Linked DNA regions of Homo sapiens. The protein of the gene in region 1 interacts with the protein of each later gene in a biochemical or structural test. Each region holds a gene or a part of one and is shown in the gene's direction. Other genes may lie near its edges. The genes, in order: SLF1 and RAD18.

Region 1 (3,559 bases):
TTGCAACATTTTGCATTTTCTTTTCACAGGCCCAGTGCTTTTACAACAGAGGAATGCTAAGGGAGAATTGCCCTTGGATTATGTGGTTTCACCTCAAATCAAAGAAGAACTGTTTGCTATTACAAAAATAGAAGATACAGTGGAGAACTTTCATGCACAAGCAGAGAAACATTTTCATTACCAGCAACTTGAATTTGGCTCCTTTTTACTTAGTAGGATGTTGCTAAATTTTTGTTCAATTTTTGATTTATCTTCAGAGTTCATTTTAGCTTCCAAAGGGTTAACTCATCTAAATGAACTGCTTATGGCTTGTAAAAGTCATAAAGAAACCACCAGTGTTCATACTGACTGGTTACTGGATCTTTATGCTGGAAATATAAAGACATTGCAGAAACTCCCACACATTCTTAAGGAACTGCCTGAGAATTTGAAAGTGTGTCCTGGGGTACACACTGAGGCCTTGATGATAACATTGGAAATGATGTGTCGGTCAGTCATGGAGTTTTCATGATGATGCTAGAAAGTATGGATTGACTTTCTAAATCTGTTCAGTTTGCATTGGTACTTACTGTGGACTTCATAGCTTACTGACAGATAGTAATTTGATTTATTTATTGACAGACTTTGCAGCCTTGCTAAATTTTAAAAGCATTTTTAAAAAAACTTCTACAAAACTCTAGTATGGGCTTCTGACTTTTTCCAGGGTGTAGAATTTGACTCAAAAGTAAAAATAATTTTGTTTTAGTATATTCTACTTTCATTAATGTTTTTTTGTTCTGAAAGTGATATTATATTGTACATGTAAAATTAATTTAAATATTTTTTCAAATAAAAATGTAATGTCCTGTATTCTAGATGTTCTAGGTCTTAGAATCATGGCAAGCATATTCATACAAATGCGTACCTATAAACTTGTAGCTCCTGACTCTTAGGGATGGATTTTGAGGAAAAAACAAGACTAAACAAAAACATGTAGCTCCCTATTTCTTCTCTCTAGGTTGTTGGACTGAAATATGCATTTTAGCTTTGTGTGTTTCTAAAATAAACATTTCTAAAATTTACAGTAATAATTAATATTCTTTTGGTTTTTAAATGCAGCAAATATGCAGAGTCTGACAGTTCAATTCCTTGATCTGTTTTATTTTAGCAATTCATATACAAAATGTATCTGTCGCTGCCCTATGTAACCCAGTATTCTGTACCTGAAAACATTCTGCTGCATAGGTTTATGAGTTTAATATTAAGATATTGAGTGGCATCTAAGTAATAGATTTGAGATTATTTAAGATCTTAATATATAGTATGAATTTACTGAGTAGTAATGTTTTAATTTGCAGTTTTTCCTTATAGCAGTTTGTAGTAAAACTAAAAGAAAGGGTGTGGATAATAACCACTTTTGAGATTGGAGTTTCTTCACTACTGGGAGTAAGTTACATTATGATACAGGTGGAAAATAAACACTTCCATTTAGCTTTTATGTAATTCAAGTGATGACCTTAGCAGTTAATCTGCTAAAGCAATACACTTCAGTTTTATTTTGGAAATAGATATTTTAACAAGATACAAATGCTCAGTATCATATTACTGGGTTTGTAATCTAAATTGAAAACTGCTATATCAGTATGAAAAAATATTTTAAATAAGTACTTTTTCCACACATACTCAGGAAATACTAGTTTCTATTTAGCCTTCAAATTTGGCATCATACAAATCTCTTTATTATTAATCTGCCAAAGTATCAGACAAAAAATGATATAGTGAAGACTATCTAAGAAGAGTTTAAATGCTTATAGAGAGTAAAGTGCTTCTCCAGATGATGAATAAGAACGTTTTTTATTCCAATGAGTACCTCTTTACTTCACTTGTAAAGGTGTCTGGGATAGTGTTTGCTTGGTAAACTAATATAAACTTGTAAACATAGGCTTTGACATCATACACATTTTCAAATCCTTGTCTAGTTTCTTAATAACTAAATTGCAAGGCAAATTCTTTTCTGAGCTTTGGCTTTCCTACATGTCAAATAGAAATCACACCAGGTATCTTTGTCATGATAGAATTGTTAGCATATCACATCATATGACACTTAATAAATATTATTTCCTTTCTAATTCTTACCTCCTCTTTTGATTATAATGAATCATTTAGACAAAAGGCAATATAGTAATTGTTTAAGTTGGTAGTAATTCTAAGGTAATTAAGGAATCAACATCATGAGTTAGGGTTTTATACTGTTAGTACAAAGTAGTTTTCCAAATTAGATGTTCATAACGTATATTTGTTTAATTGCAATTAGCATTAATATTTCATAATTGACTGCTCTGTCTGCCAACTTCTACAAGCAGTGATGACATGAAGTGTGAAACAGATGTCACTGAGGTCTCTGCCTTTAAGAAGTTTTACACTTCTTCGAAAGTCCAACGTGGCAAACATAGGTTACTGTGTTCTGTGCCCTGGCTAACAATACCAGTATATGAGTATGAATCTAAATGTTCAGGAAAAGGCTTCATTCCCAAAATTACTTCTTATACTTTATTTTAGAAAACATAATAATAATTGCCTTGAATAATTGCCCAAATCTATCTTGGAGGTATAGGAAGAAGAAATTCTCAATAAGTAAAGTATAATTCATAGTCTTAGTCCTAGATTTTCAATGGCAGACTTTTCAAAGTTGCATCTGAAGACAAGGTTGAGAAATGCTATTCTTCACTGTATTTTGCCAGATGTGATATCATAGTTCTATGGAATCATATTTTTTAAATTTCTGTAAGAGACCTTATTACAATGTAAATAAAGCTGGAGAGGAGATTTCTGAGCAGTTAAGATTCAGCTTTTCCCCATGCATTGTTTACTGGCAGTTTCTTAAATCTCTTTGAAGTTAGAGTTTTCTAGGTTGTTAATTTTTAATTTCACTTTGCAGAATAAAATCATCCAAGTATATACATATTCTGTCATTTTATTCATTCCAAGATGACCAGAAAAACATTTATCCTCATAAAAGTCAAATGTGAAATTAATTCCTTTGAATTCAGCATTTCTTGAACACCTACTCTGAACCAGGTGGTGTGCTTGACAAGGGCTAACTACAAAAAAAGAGGAAAGGCCCACAGTCTAGGAAGGTAAATAAGGCTTAAGTATTGTGAATTTTATTGTCTTCTACATCTGCTAAAAAATTAATTTCAGTAATAATTGGTGTTCTGTTTTAGTTTATAAATGTGAATATTCAAGTGTCCAGTACTTTAATCCTTTGATGAGTATTATTTTAGCAATTTTATTTTAGAGTGGATAGGGTGTAGGGTGTGCTTTTGCAGTCTTAGTATTTTTAAGCAAGCACAAATGCATTACACTAAGATACTTTATATAACCTCCAGAAAATATCTGCCATTTTTGTTTATGCTGCTATAGAAAGTTAATTAAATGAATACCTTCACATGAAAAAAATATCCATGGAATGTGCAATCCTTATGCCTTTATACACCTTTCCAGTTAAGCGGTGAACTTGATGAGAGCCTGTCACTGTTGCTCCTTAATCAGTAGGAAGGGGTCATCTTGAGTGACATGA
Region 2 (3,832 bases), on another chromosome or scaffold:
GCCAGCATATATTTCTTTTGCTGACACTTTAATTGGTCTTTTATTTAAAATATGCCATACATTTTATAGCCCAACATTAGTTTCACTAGAAGTTTTCATACATGTACCATACACATAAAAATATTGTAATTAGGAGCATTCTTTCCTGAATGTCTTTGCTGTGCCTGTCAATATTCATGTATAGGAATCCAACTATTTTCTTCCTTGTGCGTCACAATTTAGTGTTTTCTCTTTTTGCGTTAAAAGATAATTTTCAAAAACAACTAACATCATTCTCATATGGATGTAAAATGAACATGTGTTTTTATTAAAGATTTAAACTCATTAGTAGAGAGAAGACTGATATTATGAGGTGATCAAAGAAGGAGCCAAAGAATCATCACATTTACAGATGAGGAACATTGAAATGAATGTATAATGAGCAAAAAACTGGCTTCTTCCACATTGGAGGAGGAAAGTCAATTGAACCTCCACCCAACAGGATTTTGCATATCTATAGACAAGAATTATTTTCCATTGCTCTCAGTTATCTACAACATACAGAGTTATACCATAGCTCAAAGGCAGTGAATGGCTGGAATCTTGGGAGAGTAGATTTAGACAATGCCATAGTTCAACTGAAGCACAATTTTTTCCCTACACCCAGTAAATTCCCTATGCCTTAGTATTATGCTAAGGAAAATGGAAGAAACCAAGTGATAACAAGTACATTGTTGATTTTTGTATGAAAACAGTGTCAAAATTTTGTTTTAACCATTTGTAGTATGGTTCTCCCTAAAAATTTTATAGGATTTATGACATTACTTTGGACTGTGGCCTAAGTATTTAACGTTGCTAGATAAGTAAACTGTGACCTCAGCTGCATGGTTCAGAATCACAAATACATGCCCTAAAGTCCATACAGTAATGATGACTGGCTGCTCTTTATTGAACAGATTGGTACATTAATAATGATGATCTTGAGGTCAGGGTTAATTATATTCAAAGGTGTTAAAATGGTAGTAAATAAAGATTAGAGTTAGTATAGTATCGTAAGATAAGGTAGAATTGGTTGGGAGAGATCTTAGAATCTTAAAGGGGCTCTACTGGGAAACCGGCCGGAAATGTGAAGAAAAAAAGGAGAGCTGGAGTAGACGGACATTCCTTTGTTATGATGATTCAACTTTCCTAGAAGCTTCTATTTTAGATTCAGCAAATACTCTTAGTTCTCTTGTATCTTGGAAGTTAGAATGGTATCATTTGTATATATTTAAGAAAGCGGGCATCTTTCATGCTCTTATGATTATGTAAAAGCCTTTCTAGAGAATGGAGTTTGGGAAGAAACCTAGAGTAGCTAACTAGGAATATCATGTTTCCATATTTGTATTTGAGGAAGGGAGAAGATAAAAAGAAGGTTCCATGACACTCCAGCCCTTTGTATTCTTATGCTTGGCAGCTTTTAAATTTATTGCAAGTGATTCCTAAGGATGCTGTTCTTGAGCAAGCTTGTACACCTCTGTTTTTTGTTTTTTGTTTTTTTTTTTTGAGACAGAGTCTTGCCCTGTTGCCCAGGCTGGAGTGCAGTGGTGCAATCTCGGGTCACTGAAACCTCTGCCTCCCAGGTTCAAGTGACTCTTGTGCCTCAGCCTCCTAAGTAGCTGGGATTATAGGCACACAATACCACACCTGGCTAATTTTTTTGTACTTTTAGTAGAGATAGGGTTTCACCATGTTGGCCAGGCTGGTCTCGAACTCCTGACAAATGGTCCACCTACTTCGGCCTCCCAAAGTGCTGGGATTACAGGCATGTGATACCACACCTGGCTAATTTTTTTTGTATTTTTAGTAGAGATGGGGTTTCACCATGCTGGCCACGCTGGTTTCGAACTCCTGACAAGTGATCCATTCACTTCAGGCTCCTGAAGTGCTGGGATTACAGGCGTAAGCCACCATGCCCATCCCTTGTACACCTCTTGATATTCAGTTTGTCAGTTGTAGATGGTTAACTTTCATAGTCCTAGCTTTACTGAGAAGATCTTTTGAATTTCAGGTAAAAAACATAAGAGTGAATTTCAGCTTCTGGTGGATCAGGCTAGAAAAGGATACAAGAAAATTGCTGGAATGTCACAAAAAACAGTAACAATAACAAAAGAAGATGAATCTACAGAAAAGCTATCTTCTGTATGCATGGGTAAGAGACTATAATTAAAAACAGACATATGTCGAATTTCATTATTTACTTTTAATATGAAAAAATTAAACCAAAGAAATTTACTTTGGAGTTCTTAGTTCTTTGAAATGAGAAAAAGTATTTTTAGACAAACTTCATGTAGCAGTTTGTAAACTAGATTTATTACTATGGGGAAAGTGGTTGGAAGAATGTCCTGAAGAAACAATCTCTTTTTGTCTATCGTCCTTTCAGTTAATGATAAATCATAAATTTCTTTGTTATTTAAGCTTCAGGATGTTTTCTAGATATAGAATTTATTGGTGGAGATCCTGTAAAGAGAGTGAATTATTTTTGTGATAGAACACTGGTGTTTACTTTGGATGAAATGTTCTGCCAAACAGTCTAAAGTTAACATACCTGGTAGGCTAATACAGAGCACGTTCCTTAACTTTGATCCATTTTAAAATTTGAAATTGATATTTTAATTCTATTGCCTGGGCTTTGGACCAGTGAACAAAAAAGAATCATAATGGGGGAAAGTGCGCAAGAAAATTGCTTATTATGTTTTTCTATATTGTGGTAAAATATACATAACACAATGTTTATCTTTTTAACCCTTCATAAATGTACAAGTCATTGGCATTAAGTACATTCACAATATTGTGTAACTATCACCACTGTCTATATCCAAAACATTTTCATCATTCCCAGCACAAACTTTGCACTCATGAAATAGCAACTCTTCCGTCCCCTCTGCCTCATAGCCCTGGTAATAACAATTCCACTTTCTGTGTCTATGAGTTTGCCCATTCCAGGTACCTCATATAAATGGAATTGTATAATATTTGTCTTTGTGTGTTGGCTTCTTTCTCTAAGCATAATGTTTTCAGAGTCCTTCAATGTTGTAGCACATTTTAAAATTTTAAAATATTTTAAAATTTTTGATTAAACAGTATTCCATAGTATGTATATGTCATATTTTGTTTATCCATTTATCTGCTATGGTTATTTCCACCTTTTGGTTCTTATAAATAATGCTGCTATGAGCATTGGTGGTCAGATATTTAAGTTTCAGCTTAGAGTGCGATTTCTGATTCATATGCTGGTTCTATGTTTAGAACCTTTTGAGGAATCGTTAAACTTTTCCATAGTGGCTGCATTATCTTACATTCCCACCAGCGAAGCATGAGGGTTCCAATTTCTTCACATCCTCATCAATGCTTGTTATTTTCTGATTTTTAAATTTTTTAAAAATTGTAGATGTGAAGTGGTATGTCATTGTGGTTTTGATTTGCATTTCCCTAGTGACTAATAAACAATTTGTGCATAAAGTGCTGCCTCAGTATGTAACTCATGGTCATTGAACAACTCGAACTTGTTCATGCAGTTGTTAAAGGATATTTCTAGAAACTAGTTTAGCACTTGAGAAAATCTGACTGAATATTTCCCATTAAGAAAAGTTTTTTTAATTAGTTGAACCTCTCTTGAATATCATTGATGGCTTGTATGTATTTATGAACATCAATATTACTCTTTCCGGGGTTCAGAGGTGATTGCTGCTTTTAGATTGCTGTGCATGAATGAGATGTCTGAGAGGGTAAGGTATGTGAGAGAGATGAAGACAGACACAGACTGACTGAAAAGATGGATTTTGTATAGCATCATACAACCAATATAATTGTT

What was found.
Region 2: the proteins of SLF1 (region 1) and RAD18 form a complex in vitro, tested with the Homo sapiens proteins (one study listed by BioGRID).

Annotation. Positions count from the first base shown.
Region 1 is NC_000005.10:94,694,802-94,698,360, forward strand, and holds the end of SLF1 (SMC5-SMC6 complex localization factor protein 1), read left to right. Parts: exon of another isoform or gene 1-20; intron 21-29; coding exon 30-511; 3' UTR 512-2,820; downstream 2,821-3,559. UniProt on the Homo sapiens protein: Plays a role in the DNA damage response (DDR) pathway by regulating postreplication repair of UV-damaged DNA and genomic stability maintenance.
Region 2 is NC_000003.12:8,900,718-8,904,549, reverse strand, and holds part of RAD18 (E3 ubiquitin-protein ligase RAD18), read left to right. Parts: intron 1-2,029; coding exon 2,030-2,170; intron 2,171-3,832. UniProt on the Homo sapiens protein: E3 ubiquitin-protein ligase involved in postreplication repair of UV-damaged DNA. Postreplication repair functions in gap-filling of a daughter strand on replication of damaged DNA.